Linked DNA regions of Homo sapiens: region 2 is linked to region 1. Evidence: fine-mapped expression QTL. A gene starts in region 1. The other region holds a variant in brackets. All regions are shown on one strand. Distances are between the middles of the regions.

What was found. PIP is the estimated chance that this variant, and not a neighbour inherited with it, causes the effect.
Region 2: its variant is fine-mapped to the expression of INSC in whole blood (INTERVAL, PIP above 0.99).

Annotation. Positions count from the first base shown.
Region 1 is chr11:15,108,680-15,120,506 of GRCh38, forward strand. It overlaps INSC (INSC spindle orientation adaptor protein), which reads left to right and starts at 6,244. Exons shown (of 13, transcript NM_001042536.3): 1 at 6,244-6,324. RefSeq lists enhancers at 4,717-4,766, 5,418-5,951.
Region 2 is chr11:15,225,966-15,237,792 of GRCh38, forward strand. It overlaps INSC (INSC spindle orientation adaptor protein), which reads left to right. Exons shown (of 13, transcript NM_001042536.3): 10 at 9,637-9,703. Among named protein-coding and RNA genes, the nearest start is that of INSC, 120 kb to the left of the region's middle. The variant C/T (reference allele first, on the strand shown) is at 6,062.

The DNA of each region.
Region 1 (11,827 bases):
GGAAGGGCAAGGCAGCCTTGGAATTTATTTTCTGCTGTCCAGGGCACTCTGGTCAGGTAGTTCAAATTCTAAATGCTGATAAGAAGTAATCTATTTGGCTCACAAGCAACAGGACTTTCCTACCCTCCCCCACGTAGCCAATAAGCCTCAGCAGGTATTCAGTGGAGCAGACGTATACAGGACAGGGTCAAGTAAAGAGGCAGGGCTGCTCCCCAGCTCCCACCAACCTGAACTGAGCAGCTTACTACAGAGGCCATGACTGGGATTCTTCCCCTGCCTGGGCCTCAGTTTTCTTATCTGTACCATGAGGGGTTTGGGTTAGAACTTCATCACTAGATTAGTGTTTCTCAAAGTTGGCCTGCATCATAATTTCTTGGGATGCTAGAAAATAGAGACCCACAATGTCCCATGGTGTGCTACTAAGTGATCAACAACAGGCTTTCCAAAACAAAACAAAACACAACACCCTAATTTATAGCGTTTGCTCAATTTCTGTAGTGTAAATAAATACTTCTACCTTGGTCAAGTTCAAGCTAACAATGTGAAGTCACTGAACGTCACTCGGGAAGAGAGGTGCATGTGGGCTCCAGCACACCACCCACCTACTGACTCAGAAACACTGAGGGAGGCCTTGGACTCTGCATTTTGCCCCCCTTCAGGTGATTTTAGTGGATCGTAAAATTTCAGAACCCCTGCATCCAGAGATCTCTGAGGGCTTTTCTGTCCCTTCTGTCTCTCCATTCTAATTATATTACAAGTTCTCACACTGGCTTTGGGAATTGGGGATCATTTTCCTTCTTGTAAGAATTGCAGAGCAAGGCCTGGAGAGATAGATGCCATTGCCCAAGTGAGTTAATGATGCATCTGCACCAGCCTGTCTGGTACTCTGTCTCCTTGTCCTCTGTGAGGGCCCTATCTCTCCATCCTGGGGGCAGGGCAGCATCTTGATGTGCACGTCTCAGGGGGATACTGGAGGTTGCAGCTGTGGATACTGGGACCCATGCCCATTGCTCATCTCTAAGGGTGGGGCTGGATTTCAGCTGCTATCACTATGACCTTTTGATCTCTTATCTCCATCCCTGGAACTGAGAGCCTGCCTGGCCATCGCTATTTTTGTGCAGGTCCCTCATCTTGATAACTTCTCTGTGCAGATAGAGGACAGAGTGGAGGATGCTGTTTTTTGTCTTGAGGTGTGCTGGGGCAGAGAGAGCCATGACAGAGCCCATGAAAGACCCACCAATAGATGGCAGGGGTGACACAGAAGTTGGGAAGAGAAAAGTTAGGCAAAAAAGTGTACAAACTACTGAAAAGGTTAAAAATTCTTTTTTTTTTTTTGAAAGTGTCCTACTCTGTTGTCAAGGGTGGAGTGCAGTGGTGTGATCATAGCTCACTGTAACTTTGAACTTCTGGGATCAAGCAGTCTTCCTCCTATCCTCCTGCCTCAGCCTCCTGAGTAGCTGGGACCACAGGTGCACACCACTTTTCCTGGCTAATTTTTTATTTTTATTTTTTTTCAAAGATGAGGTATAGCTTTGTTGTTTAGGCTGGTCTTGAACTTTTAGCTTCCACTTATCCTCCCACCTCAGCCTCCCAAAGTGGTACTGGGATTACTGGTGTCAGCCGCTGCTCCTGGCCCAGGATTGTACATTTAAGGAGCTTTCAGAAGAGATCATCTTTATGCTGTAATTAGGTTGGAAATTTAGTTTTGAACTGGAATCATCCCTGACTTTCTCTTATTCTAGAGAGTAGTGGTTCTCAAAGCATGATCTCCAGATCAGTAGTATCAACATCACCTGGGAACTTTTTAGAAATGCAAATTCTTCAGCTCAGAATATCTCCCCATCTTAGAGCTATTGCCTGAATCACCATGATTCCTTATTCATTTGTGGAGATTAAGCACTCCTCCCTCAAAAAACTCTTCCAATGCTGGTGCCCCATGGGACTGCCATGCTGGGCTATGTTCTCTGACTACAGGGTGGATGAGCTTGTGACAACAGAAACAGTTGGGGAATTCTGGGTTGGGGATAGGGGAAATCACAAGAGACAATAGAGACTACCCTGGCTATAACAGGCCTTCTTAGGCACTTTCTATTGTGGCTGCTTAGAAGGAGGCCTGAGGCCAGCACACATCCTGCCCCTTGGAGATACCTAGCATAGCATGGCAACTTCAAGCAGTGGATAAGCTCCTGGCGGACTGAACTCTTTGGATCTCTCCTGCATGTCTGTCCTCTCAACTCTCTGGACTCAGGACTTCATTGCCTGTCCCAAAAGGAAAAGGACTTTTCTGCCCTCCCCTACGTGGCCAATAAGCCACAAGAAGTATGTGGTGGAACAAATGCAGGAGAGGGTGGAGTGGCCTGGCCCCAATCCCTGTCTCCTCTCGTTCCACCAGGGTTTTGCCATCTTCCTACAGTATAACTTCAACTCCCTCGGGCAACACGTGCTCTGCTCTACCCAATGCTTGGGCTCCTGTGCCAGGCCTTGTCCCAAGGGCCCTGTTTATATTCATCTGGGCCTGAAGGACAGGATCCTAGCATTGGAGGCTGGTCAGTGCTCAGAGCCTCGGAGGTGCTCCCTCCTTGGAAGTGCGATCCCTTCAGAAGAGTGTAGCTGAGGCTTCTTTCAGTGACTATCTAGGGAATACTGGGGGAACAATTTGGAGCTGAGGCTGGGGGTTGACTATGAACCTGGCAGACTGCAGTGTAAACCTGAAGTCTTTCCTCCATTTAGGTCTGAACTTGTCCTTCCTAAAGTGATGTGTGAAGCTGGTGGATCTGGGATAGGCCATCTGGACAGGAGAAGAATGTGGAGTCAGGCTGGAGGGGACCTTTGCCTGATACAGCTCTGGACCAGTCCTGAGGCGCCTACTTTGGTTTAGGTGAAATAAGCTATTTGTGGGTACACCTCTGAGCATGTGCATGTGTCTTTACCTGTGTGTCTTTCTGTGCATCCATAAGGATTCCCATGTGTATTTGTGTAGAGTCTCCATCTCACCAGCTGTGAGGCCACAGACAGGTGATTTAAACCACCTGGCCTCCCTTTTCTGTGTCTGTATTATGGGGATAATAATAACTTTTATAAAAGGTTACTATGGCAGCAAAATGAAACATGCACATAAGCTTCTTAGCACAGTTCCTGGTGCTCATGTGTTAGGCTGTTATTATCAATGTCTTGGGTAAGTTACTTACTGAGGCCCTCCCTGGGCCTCAGTTTCTTCATGTGTAAAATAGGGATAATACCAGAACCTAGTACTGTTCTAAGGATTAGAGCAATTGATACCTATGAAGTTCTCGTATATGCAATAAATGTTAATGATTAGAATGTATATTATCTTTGTGTCTGGATGTGTCTGGATGAGAATATCTGAGTTTGTAAATGTCTCTGAGCATGTCTTGCTGCTGGTGTGTGTATACACACATGTATATATGTGTTTAGGTGTGTTTATATAGCCAGACAGGCCCAGTCTCTCTGGTGGAGTTTGCTGTTGGCCCAAGCCTGGACTCCCTGAGCCAGCTAGGGCCGGCGCCGGGGATGGAATTTCCATTAAGAATTAAGCAGGACAGCACAGCATTGAGAAGTCAGGCAGACAGAGGGGAGGGGGTCGAGGGGGAGGAAGCTTCAACTCTGAGCTCCCTTGGGCAGCCTCAGTACTGAACTGCCTTGGACAAGCTTTGCCTTGAGTCACAGGCCTTCTCAGGGCCATGGCCCAGAAGGGTGGGCAAAGGGAAAGAAGCTGTTCACAGGGGCCTCTGTAAGGAGACTTGGAGTCGCTGCAGCCAAGGCTGGAGCCATGAGACGGCCCCCTGGCAATGGAGAGGCGGCCAGCGAAGGTCCAGGTGGCTGGGGTCTATGGGGAGTCCAGGAGTCCAGGAGGCTGTGCTGTGCCGTATGTATCTGGGAAGGTGGATGTGAGTGTGTGTGTGTGTGTGTGTGTGTGTGTGTGTGTGTGTGTGTGTGTATTGGGAAGTGGGGGGGGGGCATTTATGCCAAGTGCCTCCAGGGAACATCTAACAAACCAAGTCTGTTCCTCTCTTACCCTGAAACCCAGACACAGAGTTTGGGCCTGGAAATAAAAGAACTTTGAGGCTTTTTTGCTAACATCGATCTGTTTATGATCTAAGCCTCATTCTATTTCTAGCATATAATAAAATATCTTAGTTTTCCAGGTGCTTTACATCCTTGACCTCACTTCATACTTTCAACAACCTCATGAGCTGGGCAGAGATTTTTATGTTCCCCAATGTACATATGGGAAAACTGATGCTCAGAGAGGTTAAGTGATTTGTCCAAGGACTCATCACTAGAAAGTAGTAGAGGCAGGATGCAAAACAGGTTTCTTTGAGGAAGAATTGGAGACTTCTTTCCTTCCCTTCCTTTCCTTCCCTCTCTTCCCTCCCTTCCTTTCTTCCTTCCTTCCTCTTTCTTTCTTTTCTCTCTCTCTCTTTCTTTCTTTCTTTCTTTCTTTCTGTCTCTCTCTCTCTCTCTTTCTTTTTTGATGCAATCTCACTCTGTTGCCAGGCTGATGTGCAGTGGCACAATCTTGGCTCACTGGCTCACTGCAACCTCCGACTCATTGGTTCAAGCTATTCTCTTGCCTCAGCCTCCTGAGTAGCTGGGGTAACAGGCACATGACAACTCGCCCAGTTAATTTTTGTATTATTAGTAGAGATGGGGTTTCACCATGTCGGCCAGGATGGACTTAATCTCCGGACTTTGTGATCTATCCACCTTGGCCTCCCAAAGAGCTGGGATTACAGGCGTGAGCCACCACTCCCGGCTGAGACTATTCTTATCATACCACCTGCCCTACCGGAAACAGACTCAGAGAGAAGATTCTGCAAACAGTCTGTAAGACTGTGGTTTCAGTGGTAATGCCCAGCCAGGCGGCACCAAGCCCTGTCCCCAGCCCTAGACAGCACTTGTTGAAACAGGAACTGAGGCCCCTCTCAGGGAACTTGGGGAGTAGAATCAGGCTGTTCTGGATGACTGGAGGGTAGAGTTGAAGCTGGCTTGTCTGAGAGGAATGATTTGGCCACCTTCTGAGCCCTGGGCCCCCAGAGAGCTGAGGAGGAGAGTTAATATCAGAGAGCTACTGTGTGTGTTCGAGTCCAGGGAGCAGCAGTTAGCTTCAGCCAGAGCCTGAAAAAAGAAATAGAGATTATTAGCATTAAGGAAGAGAAGGCTGCAGTGGGACCTCGGCGTGGTCGTTTTGTCATGGGGACTGAGTTGAGCTCCTTCTCCCTGAATACATATTGTGAGCAAATTGACATAGTTTGCATGTGAGAGATTTAGGTTAGATGTCAAGGAGATCTTTCTGTCAGTAAGAGAGTTCAAGCTTTGGAACAGGGCTCAAGGGAGACCAGGGGCTGCCTTTGCTTGAGGACCTCCAAGAATAGGTCAAGATTCTCTGGGCTCTGGGAGCCTCATAGCAAGATGGCGGAGGCGGGGGAGGGGGAGTTGTATGAAATGATCTGGAAGCTTTCTTCCAGGTCAAAAATGCCACATTCCCGAGCTTTTGGGTAGGAATCAAGTTCCTCTAGATTTAGCTATTTGACAGAGTCCAGGACGGGGGTGGGGGGTGGGGGGTGGGGTCTGATCTTATGTGCCGAAGTTAGAAGGAGTTTCTGCAACAACCCCTCGTCATTTTTGGCAGGTCCAAGATGTGGAGGGTGACTTAGGTGTGTGTGAGCAAGGTTCCAGAGGGAAGCACCTGCGGTGAATAAACCGTCTCATTCTAGGCGTTTGGGGTCTATCAAAGCTGGGTGGCTTCCTCCTTCCTAGCAAGTGAACTGCACCCAAATCCCTCCTTGTTTTGTTTCAGCTCCAAGGGAAACGATCGCGGCACATTCCCTTCCCCTCTCCAGATGTTGGCATGCGGGGCACCTTGTGGGCGACCCCGCCTGGACGGCTTCGCGGCTCCCGGGCGATCACCCTGGTGCCTGCCGCCTGGCCCGGGGGAGCCCGGTCTCTAATTAGGCCTGACCGCGTCCCCATTCCAGCGCTCCTGCAGATGGGAGGGAGGGCCATGTTTCCCCCCCCAGGGGCACCGAAATAGCCTCGTAGTCCCGCGGAGACAGCAGGCAGCCGTGGCTGACGCGGGACCAAGGCTTGGCAGGGAGCGCGCTGCTGTGGAAGGTCCTTGGGAGGCTGCGACCGCCTCGGAGAGGGCGGGCGGGGGAGAACGGGGCGGGGGGTGGGGCGGGGGCCAGGGGCGGCCTCTCGGGCTGGGCCGGCAGAGCGGCCACTTTGCGCGCGGCCTCTGGAGCTCCAGCTGCGCCCCGCCACCACTGGCCGCTCGCACTACCAGCCTGTCTCGCACGCTAAGTAAGTAGACAGCTCCCCTAGCTGGATTCAGGGGGCTGGTGATGCCTCTGCTAGCCTAGTTGGGAACAGTGCAGGTTTGTCACTAATTGGATAGTAGGTGTAAGTGTGTCAGTGGGAGTGCTTGTGAAGGGGAGCTTGCGCCAGTGTGAGGGAGTGTGTCTGGATGGGATGTCCACATGTGGAATTTTCTAGCATGTGCCCCAGGGTGCGAGTGTGGGTGAACGAGTGTGTCAGAGTGTGTGGTGGCCTGGAGTGGGCCACAGGTATTTGCCTGTGTGGCACCTGCTGCCCTGGGTGCACTGTGTCTGTACCTGTGGAAATGCCTGTGTGTGTGGCAGGAAGGCCCCCAGGTGGGCTGAGCCAGTCCACATGTGGATGAGTGGATGTGCCAGTGTGAACCCAGGAAGGCAGAAATTGGGGCTAGGGAGTGTTATCTGAACTCAGGCTTTCTAAGGTGACCTGACTTGTCCCAGCTGGGGTGTCTTCTCTGTGGGTCATTCAGCTTTGGTTTCTCAGGGCTTGGAGAAGGACAGAAGCTCAGAGCCCTCACACAACACTGGAGTGAATGTGGCTCTGACTAACCCCATCTGGCTAGACCAGGGTCAGGGAGACAGCTTGGGAGACCCCACTCTTAAACCAGGAGAAGAGACAGGAGGCCAGGGGATGAGTGGACCATATGGCCATGGCCACCCACAAACACTCGCAGTGCACCCACGCTTACATGCTCAGCATACACACATTCCTGTCCATGTGCACCAGTCTTGCACACACTCTTCTCAGGATAGCCATGCAACCATTCACACTTTCAACATGTATACCTGTGGACAACGACATGTATGCAACATGCACCCACTTTGTTCAATGCATATGCGCAAATGTATCCCTGGTGTGGCCCCACCCTCAGCCGCTAGCCTCCTCCCACTTTTGCCCCTTTTAATCTATATATTATACCTCTGACAATGGGTCCAAGAAACTGGCCTCAGTGGGGAATATTTTAAGTCAGGGACTTTGGCTGTGGGGGTCAGGGCAGATGGTGATGTGGTGCCTTTGAGGGGTTCCATTGAATCTGAAACTGAGGCTGTCCATGGAGCTCAGCCAGAGAGCATCTTGTCCCTTTAGCTCTGGGACTTAGAAGCACTGTTCGCCCTTTTAGAAGTGAAAACTTCCAAACACTGCCTTTGGAAGGCAAGCCAGGTCAGGCTGGGATCTGACATGGAGCTCAGCATATATAATTTGCTCCATGCTGTAGTTTATACTCTGGATTACACTTGCTGCAGAGAAGCAGTGACCTTTCTGGGTTGGGTCCCAAGGCAACCATTTGGCAGGGAGGACAGTGAATTGAGCTGGGTTGATTCTTTCTCTTCTTTGGTTTCGTTCAACCCTACTTTGAGTCTCCCTCCCACAGGCTGGTGGAGGGATGGCATTTGCTCTGCTCCTTTCCTTTCTTCCAGTGGTTATCTTTTTTTCTGGACAGAATCTTCTCCATGACCTCCTCCCCCTGGTGACCACTGGGCACACACTATACAGCGCTTGGAAGAGTAGGTGCCCTAAAATACCAGCTGAGTGGTGGTGTTATTCTTCTTAGTAGAGCTTCTAGACCTGTCCCATCCTGGCTATTCTCTTCTGAATACTTCAGTGAGGTACCCAGACTAAATGTGCTCTTTCAGCTGGGAAGTTAGAAAGATGGTATTGAGCTTCCTTCCTTCCCTTCCTTTCTTCCTTCCTTCTCTTTCTCTCTTTTCCTTCCTTCCTTCCTTCCATTCTTTCTTTTTTTCTTCCTTCCTTTCTTTTCTTTTCTTTCTTTTCTTTCTTTCTTTCTTTCTTTCTTTCTTTCTTTCTTTCTTTCTCTCTCTCTCTCTCTCTCTCTCTCTCTCCCCCTCCCTCCCTCCCTCCCTCCCTCCCTCCCTCCCTCCCTCCCTCCTTCCTTCCTTCCTTCCTTCCTTCTTTCCTTCCTTCTTTGATGGAGTCTTGCTCTATCGCCCAGGCTGGAGTGCAGTGGCATGATCTCAGCTCATTGCAACCTCTGCCCCCCGGATTCAAGCGATTCTCCTGCCTCAGCCCCTGAGTAGCTGGGATTATAGACCCCCACCACCATGCCCAGCTAATTTTTGTATTTTTAGTAGAGATGGGGTTTTTCCATGTTGGTCAGGCTGGTCTTGAACTCCTGACCTCAGGTGATCTGCCTGCCTAGGCCTCCGATACTGCTGGGATAACAGGTGTGAGCCACCATGCCTGGCCTGAGTTTCTTCTTTCTTAGTGTTTATGGTTTAGTCTAAGGGGTGACTAAGCTCTCACCCACCAACTCCTCTAATATGCAGGAGAGCAAGTTGGGTTCAACCATTTTTTGAGGGGAATGCTGGGATCTAGCTTCTCTTTGGCCTGATCCTACACCTGACCCTTGGGAATGGTTAAAAAAGGGCAGGCTATGGTCAGTCCAGCAGAATAAAGGTGGCAGGGGAAGGAATTATTTTCCCATTGTGCTTCCCTTGTCACTCTGCTTGCTGGGAAGCTCTTAGTCCATCATATGGCTCTGTTGTAATAACTATGTTAGTTGGAACCATTGCTTTGACTTCTAATTTCTGCTTTATCAACTTTATAGAATACATATTTTTAACTGTAAACTTCCACATCCTTTGTTGAAGGAAATCAGAACAAATAAATGAAAAACCAGCAATTAAGCATTCTATTGGTCTCTGGGGATGGGAATCACACTGGATTTTCCTGGGACATCCTCAATTTCAAATATGTCATCTGGTTTTCAACTCATATGTCTCAATTTGGCTTCTGTACCTTTGAACTCTAATTGGTGACGATGTCTTGGAGGTTTTTTTCCTAGTAGCTCTGGGACATAATGCCCATCTCTGTGCTGGCTCAGACAAGGGGGATAGTTGAGAATGAATTGGGCCATTGATAAACACCCCCTGCTCCGAGTGTTTCAGCTGCCAGCTCTTCCCTGTCTCAAAAGCTCAAGTGTCTGGGTGCCCGAAGGAGTTTGACCCTTGCCCTAAGCCTGGCCCTGGCCCCGCAGCCACCCCTTCCTCATGTGACCCTGCCCAACTCAGGGCTCTCTGTGTCTCTTGGATCTGAGCCCTCCCCCAGTATGGAACACAACATCTCTGATCAGGGATGGCCCTTGTGGAACTGGAGCTTGGGATGGGGAGCTTGGACTTAGGAGTGTGGAGGAGCACATGAAGGGCTTTACTGCCTCCTTGCCTGGGTCTGTGAGGCTAAGTGGTCAGGGAATCATTTGTCACCTCTTATCTGCAGAGGTGCACCTCATCTGAATGCAGGGCAGGGTTCTAGCCACATTGCAAAGTTGGTGAAACTTCTAATTCACTCCAAGTCAAATTATTTTATGCTGCCCAAGACCACTCATGTTTGGAAAGGAGAAAGCTGGAGGGTAAAGCTTAGCAACAAAGAATGATTAGAATAACTTGAATGGTGGGCTTTCAGGCATTGCATTGAGGTCCTGCTTCTCATTATATCTTATGTCAACCCAAGCTGGTGGCCATTGCCTGCCTTCAAGATATATCCTCCCAGAAGCATTTGATCACAAGGTAGGAAAGAGGAAATCCCCTGTGGCCTGGTACTGAGTAATGTGCTGGTGGCTTGGTATGGGTGAGGTGTTTTTTCCTTCCCAGAAAAGTGTTATCTTAAAAAGGTAAGACTAAGACTGGACCACATCTCTGCTGAATTTTCACACTATTTAGACTCTGGTTGTCCCCTGGGCTTTAAGCTCAACCAAGTGAAAACAGGCTTAAAAGCCAGTAAGAGCATTGTGTGAGATAGTTAGGACTTCTGTGCAGGAAAGGTAACTCACAGTAACTCACTTTTATTTATTATTGACTACTGTCCAGCTTCCTTTTTAGGCTCTTTCCATCTTTTGTTTCATGAAACCTCTATACCAACTCTATGAAATAGTGAAGACTATTTTAAATATAAGGAAACAGAAACACAGCAAGGCTAAACAACTAGCCCAAGGTCAGAGCTAGCAAAGATTCCTTTCCAGATCTGTCTAACTCCAGAGTGTGTAGTGAATGTCCACTGACCACGAGAGATGCCGGCAACTCCCTCATTTCAAAGGCTTTCAAAGCAGAAAAAACTACTCCTTTGGGCAAATTGGGGAATGAGGCTAAGGGGCTTGACTTCTCTGTCTGTCTCCAGGACCTCAACGTGATCAGCATCATTGGCCTTTCCAGCCTCAGCTGGAGACTGTTGCTGTGTGAGAAGCAGGGATTGAAGGGGTGGGAAAGGCCTCCTGGGTTGTGTGGGGATCTCTCCCTCTGTCTTTCAACCCCCCACCAACATGCAGTGGGCAGTGTTGAACTTCTGTGCCTTCACTTCTCCATGGAGCAACCTCTGTCCTGGGAACCAAGCCTCTGCCCAGACTCTGCGATCTGGCCGGTCTGATCTCCCCTCCCCCAGCTCCAGGGTCCCCTCAGTGCCAAGCTCTGGGGGAGTCTTGGATGCTTTGAGGATGTCTTGGGGCAGATCAGACTCTGTTTGGTGTGATGCAGTGTCTGTAGGCGTCAGCAGTTTGGCTGGGTAGTTGTGTATACTGTTCACTTTCTGCTGGAGAAATGAAGGTTTTGTCTTACAAACCAAATATTCTGGGTTTGGAAACCATGTGAAATGTGGCCTGTGGTTGGAGGGTGTAAGCTACGTTGTGGGCCTGTGTGTGGTGCTGGATTTAAAGACACTGTTGAGGGACAGAACAATTGGCTCAGGCCATCTCACTTCTTTTGATGGAGGGTCAGAGGTGGGCGGTACATACTGGCAATGTGCGGAAAAGAGTGCACGGGCTTTGCAGCCAGACAGATCTGACTTGGAGCCTCAGTTTCCTCATCTGTAAAATGGGGTTCCTCATAAGGCAATGTGGTGCTTGAACTGGAAAGTTTATTTGAAATTCAGTGTCTGGCATAGAATAGGCAAACCATAAAATGCAATATCCTTCTTTCTTATGCCACCCACTTTCTGTGAAAGAACACCGGCCTAATTGGCACAAGATCTGGATTCCAGCTCTGACTCATCCTTGGGCACACTGTGTTATCTTGGGTTAAGTCACTTACCTTCTCTGAGCCTCCCTTTCCTGGTGCATAAAATGAGAGAACTCATTTCTCTCACTTCTCTGCATTTTCTGAGGATGATGAAAGAGACTAAAGTTAAGGGTTCTCTTGGAAGATCCAGAAAGTACAACCAAAACTGATTCATTTATTCATGCCTCAGTATTAATTGAGATCATTTGCTGTGCCAGGGTCTGTGCAAGGCGCTGGGGGTAGAGGTAAGTAGGAATATCCCGGGCTTCAAGTAGCAATCAGACCTTATGGCAAGGCAGACTTGTAAACAAATAAAGGCCTGTCTGTGGGGCATGATCAAATCAGGTACTAGAGGCACTAATGTAGCAGCAAGGAAGTGTTGTCTCCAACTGGGGCAGTCAGAAAGGCCTTCCCGAAAGTGTAAGTACTTGGTGTGGATCTTGAAAGATAACAGGAAGTTGCCAGGA
Region 2 (11,827 bases), 120 kb after region 1:
TCTCCACGTTTCTCATTGACTTTGTAGCCTCTCTATGAGAACTCCTACCCTCTTTGCCCATCCCATTATGAGCTTTACATGCTGCAGGAAGGTAAAAGAATATATTTTCTGTGTCTCTCATTGACCTTGAAGCCTCCCTACGAGATCTCCTACCTGCTTTGCCCATCCCAACCACTGTAGGGCCTTCCTCAATCTCTGTTCAGATTGCCTATTCTGGGAGGCGGAAAGACCCATGGAAGGTGCCTAGACCTCCTCTGAAGGTCTGTGTCCTGGTCATGTTGGTGGCCGTCTAACACTGAACCCTATAGTGAACTGCTCCCCTCTTTATCTCCATGAGAAACAGGGGCTTGGAGCAGAACCTTCATTCAGGGCCTCAGCTTCTACATCAGTCATAATTGTCTATGTATATTTGAGCTCCATGAAAGGTTTTCTTTGGTAGAAAGGGGGTTTTACTACTAAAAGTGTTTGAAAACATAGAATGGGGGTATTTTAAAGGCTCTTTGAACTCTGATGTTCTAGAATTTTATACCATTTCACCTCTGGCCACACTTGGCCTCCCACATCACCACCAAGGAGTGGGGGTGGTAGATTAGGTGGTCTCTGTAAATTCTTCCCAGTACCTGAGCTCTAAGTTACATGATCCTCTCGTCCTCAACTCAGCTTATCCCTGTCTGCATTTTAGCCCCTAAACCATCACCTCTTCCAGGCTTATCTCTTAACTGAAGCTGCTTTGGTTTCTGTTCCATGCCAGCAGCTGCAGGAAGGCCTTCCCTGATGGTTTCAGCCCTCTGGAATTGCCTCCTTTTCTTAGAATTCATACCTCACAATGCAGTGTTGACTTATCTAATGAGGTTATTCCTCTTAATTATTTCATGTGATTTTCTTCCTCTGAGGGCATGATCCATGTTCCCTAGGATTTTTTAAGGCCTCTAGCCTAGAGCTGGTGCCCTTGGTGAAGTTCCCCAAACTTTGTCAGTTATTTCTTATCCTCAGAATCGCCTGTGAAAGGGCAGCTGACCGTAGAAGCTCCTATTCGGAGATAATTTTCTAGTATCTAAGCATTTGCGTATGAGGGTTCTAATAATACTGTGACACTGGTGATATTTGCCCCATTTTATAGATAAGAATATTTTGGCTCAAGAGGATGTCCCCAAAATTAAATGGTTGGCAGGCAGCTAGCCAGCATTTAAATGAGGATTAAATTTAAATCCTGACTTAGAACTTGATCTTTGACTCTCATCTGCTGTCATCTTTGAAGAAAGGAGGTAGTGCAGCTGTTGAACCACAGACTGGGTGTTGGTCCTGCCTGGGCCATTTATCAATTGAGTGACACTGAGCAAGTCAAAGGCTCCTGGGTGTTGGGTTTTTGCATCTATTAATTGGGACATGAATGTCTATATTGCAGGGTTATTGTGAGGGTGAGTGTAATAAGATATGCAAGGACCTGATGTAAGGCTTAGCCCCTATTAAGTTCTTAATAAATGGTGAATATCATTACTTTTTAAACCTGATGCTCCAAAGAAGAGCATGAGTAGTGAATTATCCAAAATCCTCAACTTGGCCCTCCAAACTATGTATGATATGTATGATTCCAGACTTCCTTTCCAGTCTGATCTTATTACTTCTAAGAGTTGGAGAGGTCCCTGTAGAGAGAAGGTATGACAGTAACAGATAAAGTGGTGACCCCCTGGTTGGCTATTGGCTTGATTGACTCCTGAGGGGGACATGCCCCATGCCTACCATAGACATACCCTTGGTAGTAGAGAGGGAGACAGGAGGGCCCACTTTTTGTGATCCGCCTTACTCATGCTCATGTTCTCTTCAGATAGATACCTCCAGTTGCTGGGTCTTTCATCTACCTGACATAATTTTAGGTTCTTTCACCTTCAAGTGCCTCTCCTGTGGCTGACTCCGGTCATTTCCTACAAGATCCAGTAGTGAGGCAATAAGACAAGGAATTTTGGATTCAGACAACCTGAGTTTGAGGCTTTTTTGCTATTAATAATCATGTCACTTTGGGCAATTCACTCTATGTCTCACTTTCTTAATTTGTAAAATGGAAACAAATAATACATATTTTACAAAGTTGAAATAAGAATTAAATTAATTAATAAATAAATATAAACTCTTGGTACAGACTCTGGCACATAGAAACTGTTAAATCAATGGAAGCCACTGTCAATGTTATTACAATTGGCCTTTGAATGTGTGGCACACAGCATTGAATGGGACCCTCCAGAGAGGAGTCCCCTCATCTGTAAAATGGGCATGACCTCTTCCATCTTGAACATCCTCTGTCTCTATGTGTAGAAGTCCCCTTCTTATCACAAGGAATGACTAGCCCCCTCTTGAAGCCTCACTGAGTCCTAGGAAAAGGAGATCAGGGTAGGGAGAGAATGTGGTTGCGCTGCCAGCAGATAGTTCTCTCTGCACCTGGAGTCGGTACCTTTTCACGTTACTCCACTGTCTGAGCCAGGCACGTCACCCACTGTCCTCAGGATGGCTTCACCTTCTGTCCTGTCTCAGAACAACCACTTAGCTAGTGAAAGTGCACCCATTAAAGAAACAAATGGCTCTTTCCTGTTGCAGTGGGAGGATTAAGGTGATCAGAGGGCTCTCTGTAATGAAGACAAAGAAGATGAATTAGGCTTTGAAGTGCTCACTGCCCCCTAAAATACTTAGGAGATTAAATGCCCCATGAGGCTTCCGGTAATGAATCTGCCAATGACGCCAATGCTGTGTGGAGCCTCTTGGTCTTGGATCTATACAGACTACCTCTGTTTGGACAATGAGAACCCTTCCATCATCCTGGCAAGCCAGGTCCACTTAATTTGTTCAACAGAAGCCTCGTTGGGTATGCCTATCCTGTCGCCACCCTTGGGGTATGGACGTTGGTGAGGGCAGCCTTGGACCTAGGCTCTTCTATACCCTTCAGCTAATCCACAGGAAGGTGGCACGGGCTGCAGCTGACATGGTCAGCCATTGAGAAGCCTGACAAGCAATCTGAATAGTCCTATGTTTTCATGCCCAGGAGGTATTTTCCAGGAGCCATACTGCCCATAGAATCCAGCTACAGATCTGACAGGGGGAGGTAGGAAACGGGCTGCCTCCAAATTTGTTGGTGAACTTCTGGCCTATCCGTCAAGCAGGGACAATCTAGGATGGAAGAGACCTGATTATCTTATCTAATATATAATAGAGATTTTTACTGAGTCTGACTTTTTGTGGCCTTCAGGAATTAACTGCTTTCATAAGGGAAGGAGTGCTAGTATATACTTCCCACAGTAATACCTCATCTGTTTGGCATTTTAGAATGACTAGATTTTGTAACATTTCTGGGACCTCACTGTGAATACCATTTATCAGGGAATGCCAGTCACTAGGGGTTTCATTTTTGTCTCACATCTCAAAATCTCTCTATAGTTTATAAAGCTCTGTCATATACATATATGACGTATTAGAAACAGCACAGGTTTTTAGTTCAGACAGATTTGAGTTCACATTCTGGTTCTGCCATTTCCCAGCTATGTGACCTTGGACAAATCACTTAATCTCTGAGCCACAATTTCCTCATCTGTGTAATGGGGATAATAACATTTGTTCCCTCCCTCATGTCATTATGATGATTAGATGGGATAACGCTCATAAAGTACTTAGAAGCAAAGCGAATACCCAATAATGAATGGGATGGGTTCTCTAACAGAACCAGAGACTGGGATGGGTCGGAGACAGGGAATGTAAGCTTTGGAACAGGAAGGTAGGGTCAGGAAATATAGTTAATGTGGTGGCAATTGTATTGGTCTATTCTCACATTGCTGTAAAGAAATGCCTGATGTAATCCCAGTACTTTGGGAGGTTGAGGCAGGCAGATTGCCTGTGTTCATGAGTTCAAGACCAGCCTGGGCAACGTGGCAAAATCCTATCTCTATAAAAAACATTTTTATATATATATAAATTTTTTATATATTATATATATATAATATTATATATATATTTATATATATATATATATATTATATATATATATATATATATATATATATATATAATATATATATATATATATATATATATAAAAGCCAGGCATGGTGGTACACACCTGTAGTCCCAGCTACTTGGGAAGCTGAGGTGGGAGGATGGCTTGAGCCCGGGAAATGGAGGTTACAGTGAGCCAAGATGGCACCACTGTACTCCAGCCTGGATGATAGAGCCAGACCTTGTCTCAAAAATAAAAATAAAAATAAATTACCTAAGACTGGGTAATTTGTAAAGAAAAAAGGTTTAATTGGCTCATGGTTCTACAGGCTATACAGAAAGCATGAAGCTGGAATCTGTTTGGCTTCTGGAGAGGCCTTAGAAAACTTACAATAATGATGGAAGGCAAAGGTGAAGCAGACACATCGCATGGCAGAAGCAGGAGCAAGAGAGAGTGAAGGGGGAGGTGCTTCACCCTTTTCAACAAGAACTCACTCACTATCATAAGAATAGCACCATGAAGATGGTGCTAAATCATTCATGAAGGGTCCACCCCCATGATCCAATCACCTCCCACCAGGCTCCACCTCTAACATAGGGGATTACAATTCAACATGAGATTTTGGTGAAGACACAGATCCAAAACATATCAGGGATATTGTGTAGTATTGGAGGAATCCAGGATCACAACACCCTGTCCTGACCTGCTCCAGAAACCCTTCCCTACAAAGCCAAGGGCAAACCAAGCACAGAGAATATGGTCTGACTTTTATATGCTCTCTAATACGGTGGGTTTACAGCCCAACATTCATGTAATCCCTGGGGCGAGGGAGCTGGGCCTCACCCAGGAGAGCCCTTCAGCCTGTTTGCCAGCAGCACGGGACCTACATCCAAAACAGTTCTATGGCTTTTATCATGTGGTCTCCTAAGCCTAAATCTTAGCCCACCAGTCTTGCCACTTTAGTAGTAAGGGAAAGCTGGTCCTGTCAATGAGAAGACCCACGTACCAGAGAGAAGAAGCCATCTGCTTGTCTCTGGGTCTAGGTCAGTGCCCTTCTCCTAGTCTGCACACCTGTCCAGCCCTCTCAGGTCCTGCGCCCTGGGCCCTGGGCCATGTCTGCCAGAGGGAGGAAAAGGCTCAAAAGAGAGCAGAAGAGGAGAGGGCTATACCTTCTCCTGGGCTCTCTTGCCTCTCTGGCCTTGGAAAAGAAAGTATTTTCAAAGAGATCCACCTTTCTTCCCTTAGATCCCTTAATTCTACAGATCAATGTCCTTGTCTGGATTCTTTCTGCTCTTTGGTAGAGGAAGTGGTGTGGAGGGAAGAGGGTGGAGAGAAGCACTGGGCTTCCCCTAGAGCAGTGCTATCCAATCTTTTGACTTCCCTGGGCCACACTGGAAGAAGAATTGTCTTGGGCCACACATAAAATACACTAACACTAACAACAGCTGATGAGCTAAAAAGAAAAATCACGCACAAAAAAATCTCATAATGTTTTAAGAAAGTTTACAAATTTGTGTTGGGCCACATTCAAAGCTGTCCTGGGCCACATGTGGCCTGTAGGTCATGGGTTGGACAAGCTTGCTAGAGGCTGAAAATTATTCTGCTTTTTGTTCTCAGGGCTGCAGTTGACATTGTTGCTGCAAATTTCAGAGTTAACACGGTGATAATAGAAATCTAAATATTCATCTGGCAATTAAAGAATAATTCTAATTACAGTCATACAAGCTGTTGGCCTTTTGGTCCTAATTTCTGCACAGCATAAAAGTAATTATAACTTTTCATGAAATATATGCCAGGCTTTCTTTGTTGAAAGTTCTTTAGATCAGAGCACCTGTCTCTACTTGGGTGTCCTGGGTATTCTTCACTTGCCTTGAATGCAGTTTGGTCTTCAGTATTAGTTTCCAGCAAGGGAACACAGGCAGAGTCAGGGTGTGATCAGGGCTGACTGCTGAGACACTGCTAGGATGTGAGGCAGGCCTGGTTCACACCTTGGCATCGGCCTGCAGACAAGTGTTTCTCCTCCGTGTGTGCTGACATCAAAAGGCCTCGCCAACCTCCTTCCTACCTCACAGGGACATTTCTTCT[C/T]GAACCAGTGACATGGGAGGTCCCCTGCTATCCTTGATCAATTTCCTGTCTGCCTCAATTTTCATGTCTTTGGAGGCCAAAGAAAAAATAATTTGAAAATGCCACAGAAGGTAGTGAATACACACTTTGCTGTTCTTCTGATGGGAAGGGTTGACTTGCTCTGGGACAGGCTCACCTTTGGGAGGGATCTCACATTAGCAGCGTGTCTTGGCCACACGGATGCTCAGCCCCCCGAGTGCTGCAGGTTACTTGGCTAGTGTTTCTTGACACAGTCTTTCAAGGCTTGAGTCCTTTCAGGTTCTCCTGCCCAGAGCGAGCCATATTTATTTTATTTAACAAAGGGTGCTTGATATTAACTCATTGAATGCTCATACAGGACTTAAAAGATACCTTTTATTTATTTACTTATTTATTTAGAGACGGAGTCTTGTTATATTGCTCAGGCTGATCTCAAACTCCTGGCTTCAAGTGATCCTCCTGCCTCAGCCTGTGGAGAAGCTGGGATTAAAGGCATGAGCTATGGTGCCTGGCTGAGTTATTTTTATTTCTTGTGGTAGGGCCCCCAGGGATGTCCACATCCTAATCCTCAAAACCTGTGAATAAGTTACTTTATATAGCGACACGGGTTTTCTAGATGCGATTGAGTTAAGATCTTGACATAGGAATGTTATCCTTGATTATCCAGGTGAATCCAGTGTCATCACAGAAGTTCTTGTAAGAGGGAGGGAAGAGGGTCAGAGTCAGAGACTCAAACGTGATTAAGGAAGCAAAGGTCAGAAGGATATACTCCCCTGAGCCAAAGAATGAGAGCAGCCTCTAGAAGCTGGAAAATAGAAACTAGGAAATTGATTTTCCCCTAGAGCCCCCAGAATAAATGAAGATCTGTCAACAACTTGATTTTTGCTATGTAAGACTCATTTAGAACTTCTGACTTCTAGAACTGCAAGATAAAATTGTGTCATTTTAAGCCACTGAGTTTGCGATAATTTGTTATAGCAGCAATAGAAAATGAATACACCAAGCCACAGAAGGTTAGGTAACATGGCCAAGATCATAGCAAAATGTGATAGAGCCAGGATTTAGATGTAGGTTGAGCTACACGCTTAGCTATCACATTATACTGACCTCTCACCTAGGGCCTTTCTCAAGGTGATGTCCTCTGGATTCACCAAACAAATGCAGGGGGAATGGTGCCCTTTCACTTAGGTGGAATAGAACTTAATTGAACATCATCAAACAAGACTGAATTAGCCTGGGTTGGGGAAACTGTCTGCCTGGCTCCTGCACTCTGCCCCCTGACAGCATTGTTAACTTGTATCCAACCAGGTAAAACAGCTGTCCCTAAAATCCCACCCATGGACTTGACTGTGAGGATAAACAGTGACCTCTTTCCCCTCTATGTTATGGTGCACACAAGGATGTTTCACAAGGGGGACTCAAAGCAGGGCATAATTGGCATTTATTCAAATTGTACTTAATTGAATACTTCATCTGCACCTCCAGAAAACCACATGGGGTACAGGCTCTGTAAAGAGGAAGTAATTTTCATTAACAGGATCTAAATTAGTCTGACACAAAGACCTACGTGGTGCCTGTGACACGGCTAATAATTACTGTGTAATGAACCCGTTGCCGCAGACAAAGATTTCCTTTTCTTTTCCTAGTTTGTCCTTCCTTCCTTCCTTTACCTCCCTTCCTCCCTCCTTCCCTCCTTCCTTCCTTCCTCCATGAATCTGCATGTCAAGTAAGTGTTTTTATTCAGAAAGGCCAGCCTGGTGATGGTGGGATGTCTCAGCCCCTGTGTGGTGGAAACAGAGTCCATGCTTTCTGCTAACAGCCCAGAGATAGCCAAACAAACTCTAAACTGACATGGACTTGGCCGTGTACCTCCTCCCTCATAAGAATGTGCACACGATGCCTCTTGGGGAACTTTCCAACCCAGCTTTTTCCTCTAACTCCTTCCACTGAGCCCACAAACGCAATCTTAAAAAGTGCAAAAACAAGTAAATAAATACGTAAAAGAGCCTCTAAGTCCTAAACCTCCTTTAGTCCTATTATTTTCTTAACTGCAAATAGGAGCTAGTCACCCCCTTCTTAAAACACCTGGTGGTACAGAGTTGCTTTCAGGATAAAGGTTCTGGAGTATTCTCCTGTCCTTCCTCTGGCAACCCACTGTAGTCATGCTTATCCAACCAGGCCCCTGATGGGGTCTGAGCTGGGAGGGGTTGTCACACACACAGATGCTGCAGCAGCCAAAGAATGTGGAATCCCCTTCCAATATGTGTTTAGAAGGAAAGGGGAGAGATAGATATTCTATTAATATGGTAAAGTTTTTCCTTTCTGTTTAAAAGAAGACATTTTTAAATGTATTTGTTATCCAGAGTAAAATAGTAATATGTGTTATCCAGAGTAATTAAAATGTAGATAATACTCTTTCTTGGTAGACATAACATTACTATCCAGTTTCAGAATTTTAGCTGCCTGAATTCTACTCAGTAGACTGTCAACTGCTGTCTCAGCGGAGGGGGGACACAGTTTTTGCTTATACCATCCTGCAAGCTTTGAAGAAACCTTTCGAGAGAGAGGCTTGTACCAGTGAGAAGTGTTTTTAAATTTTATTTTATTATTCATTTTAATTACCACTTGAGAGCGCTGTCCATTTCTGTGAAAGTGGGTGAATTTTCATCTTGCTATTTATGTCAGGAGCAGTGTTGTGGGTGGTATCTGAGTTAACAGGTGCCATGTTCCCAATCTATTCCAGTAGCATTTTGGCACCCTTTTGCAGTTTGGGGTCCCTGGAATGAGTCCTCTGTCAGGCCATTCCTTAATCCAGTTTGTGCTGTGAGTTCTTTTCTCCCTTGACTGTACCAGGGGAGGCTGGTTACAACCCACAAAGCTGTAACTGAGACTCACTGTCCACCTGGTGTCAATACCCCATTTCCTACAGGCAGAGACTTTCAGTGATGACTGATAAGCGAGGCTTACCACAGACTTGCAATGTGCAGCTGAGTATGCACTTTCTCATCAGATTCCATGTAATACCCAATGCTTGATAACGCTGCCTCTTCCTACTCATGCCCTCTAACGTGACCTTAGCCTTCATTCATCACAGGTTGAAAGTAGGTGAGGGTTAGTATCCAGGAAAGAAGCTTGGATGGAAGAAGTCAATCCAGAGTAAGAGCTAGCTGTCAGGAGGACAAGCCAGCACAGAGGAGTTTCAGGGGCCAGGGACCTGCTGGTTCTGTCTGCATTTCAGGACTGGGGACCAGAGCAGAAAGACAACCGGGCCCCAACTTCACCCAGGGTTATGCTAGTCTTTCCAGGGTGTCCTGGGGCCCTTGGGGGCCGTCCTATAGCCATAGGCTGATAAATGGGCATTAGTCACCGGGGAAATACATCTGGGTGGCAGGAGCCCATAAGGATGGAAGAAAATGCCGTGGAAGGATAGGCCCGGTGGACAGGAAGGAGTCACGGGATAAAAGGAAGCTTTGTAGCCCCTGGCTGACCTGTCTGTAGGGAGGACTATTAGGATCAGGTGTGCTCATTTTCTGAGGTTTCTAAATTATCTTTTCCAGATTGTGACCATCTTGGCAAACATGTCTGTCCTAGAACAGTGTGCCTCTGACATCATTCAGGAAAATGGTATGTCTTTGCAGCATTGTACATGTTATGTGGATTATCTGGATGTAGGGGACTGTGTCTTTGTGCTTGTGTGAATGCCTGTGCAGGTATGTAAATAGGTACATGTGGCCGGGCGCAGGAATCATGCCTGTAATCCCAGCACTTTGGGAAGCAGAGGTGGGCGGATCAACTGAGGTAAGGAGTTCGAGACCAGCCTGAGCAACATGGTGAAACCCTGTCTCCACTAAAAATACAGAAATTAGCTGGGTGTGGTGGTGGGCGCCTGTAATCTCAGCTACTCAGGAGGCTGAGGCAGGAGAATCACTTGAACCTGGGAGGCGGAGGTTGCAGTGAGCTGAGATCACGCCATTGCACTCCATCCTGGGCAACAGAGCGAGACTCTGTCTCAAAAAAAAAAAAAAAAAAAAAAATAGGTACACGTGTCTCCATGCTTGCCTGAGCATATATGTGTGTGCTTGTATGTGTGCAACTGGGTCTATATATGTGAATATTTGTTTGCTTTTGTGAGGCCTAAATTCTAGTGGAAGACAGATAATGTATAAGAAGATAGCAAATGTCCAGCAATAATAGCGTGACAGTGCCCCGGGGAAAATGAAGCAGGGAAGAAGAGTAAGGTAGTCTCAGGGTGGGGGGGTGGTGGTTGCTATTTTAATAGGGTCATGAGGAGAAGGCAAATATTTCATTATGATCCTCAAATAAAAAAAATCTATTCCTACCAAGGGATACATTCCAACTTTAAATTGTTCCTATCTTATTGGATTTGGCCACAGTAGAAAGCTGAGGAAGGGGTGAGAATGGGAGAGCAGGTCAGGGCAACCTGAATGTCTTGAGCCCTCACTGAGTGCATCTCTTCTCCCACTTGCTCCCTTGTTCCATCTTGTGCTGAACATGTCACCAAGGTCCAGGTGGGGTGGGCCAGGTTTCATTGGCCTGGAAGCTGATCTAAGCTGTTTCTGCCAAAGGACAAGGTGGTGGCTGCCTTGCAGCTGGGAGCAGAGATGGTGAGGGCTTCCTGTGACTGGGAAATAAGGGAGCAATTAGCAACCGGTTGGAAACCAGAGACGCTAATGAGGCGGAGTGAGCTGGGAGCCTGTGCCCGCTGCCTCTGCTCTTGCTAAACCCCCTTCTCCCAGGCTTCCCTGCTGTCTTAACAAACATACACTTTCCCATCCCCCATTGCTCTGTTACTAATTGAAGGACATCATTTTGTGTTAATTTTATGTGATTGAGCTAATAATGAGAAACTTTGCTGAGCCAGCTGAGGCCATGAAGCTGAGCTACTGCATCTGTGCTCCGTTCTTTCGGTACTTATAGAGCCTTACGTTGAAGTGTTCAGTGGGAGTGGGTCTCCATAGGCCTGTGAATTTGAGATTGGAATATCTGGCATCTGTAGAGGGTTTTATGGTTCACAAAGTGCTATTGACTGACTGAATCAGTAAACAGTTATTGAGACCTAATATGTGCCTGGCATTGTGCTAGACAATGAGAACAGAGATAACTAAATCCCTGTCTTTGTCCTAGAGGATCTCACAGTCTAGACAGAGAGCACAACTTAACAAAAGTGACATATGATAAAAATATAACATCTACAATAGAATAATGCAACAGAGGGAGGTTGGCATGGTGGTTGAGGTTGAAAACTGGAACCATACTCTGTGGGTTTGAATCCTGGCACTGTTGTTTACTAACCATATGACCTCTCTGTTTTTTCATCTGCAAAATGAGAATAATCCCTACCTCATAAGGATGTTGTGAGGATTAACATGAAGCACGTTAGAAGATTGTCTGGCACAGAATGAGCACTATGCTAAGCCCCCCTGCTCTTTCAGGAAACAGTGGCAGTCTCACGGGGTTTACCTGAAGAGAGTTTAATGAAGGAGCTATTTTCCAAAGCAGGGCAGGATTTGAGGAATCAACAATGGTGTCAATGCAACTGGTGTCTACTGGAAGACAGGCCTCTAAGGTCTGGACAGGGCAAATCTTGTTGTGCAGACTGGGCTTTGAGAGTCCATGGTCTAAATAACAGGTTGCAAACTTAGATGCCTACAAAACTCAGACAGGTAATGTAAATGGACGAGGCGAGCTCACCAGAGACAGGATCAATCTCTTTTAAAGAAGGAACTC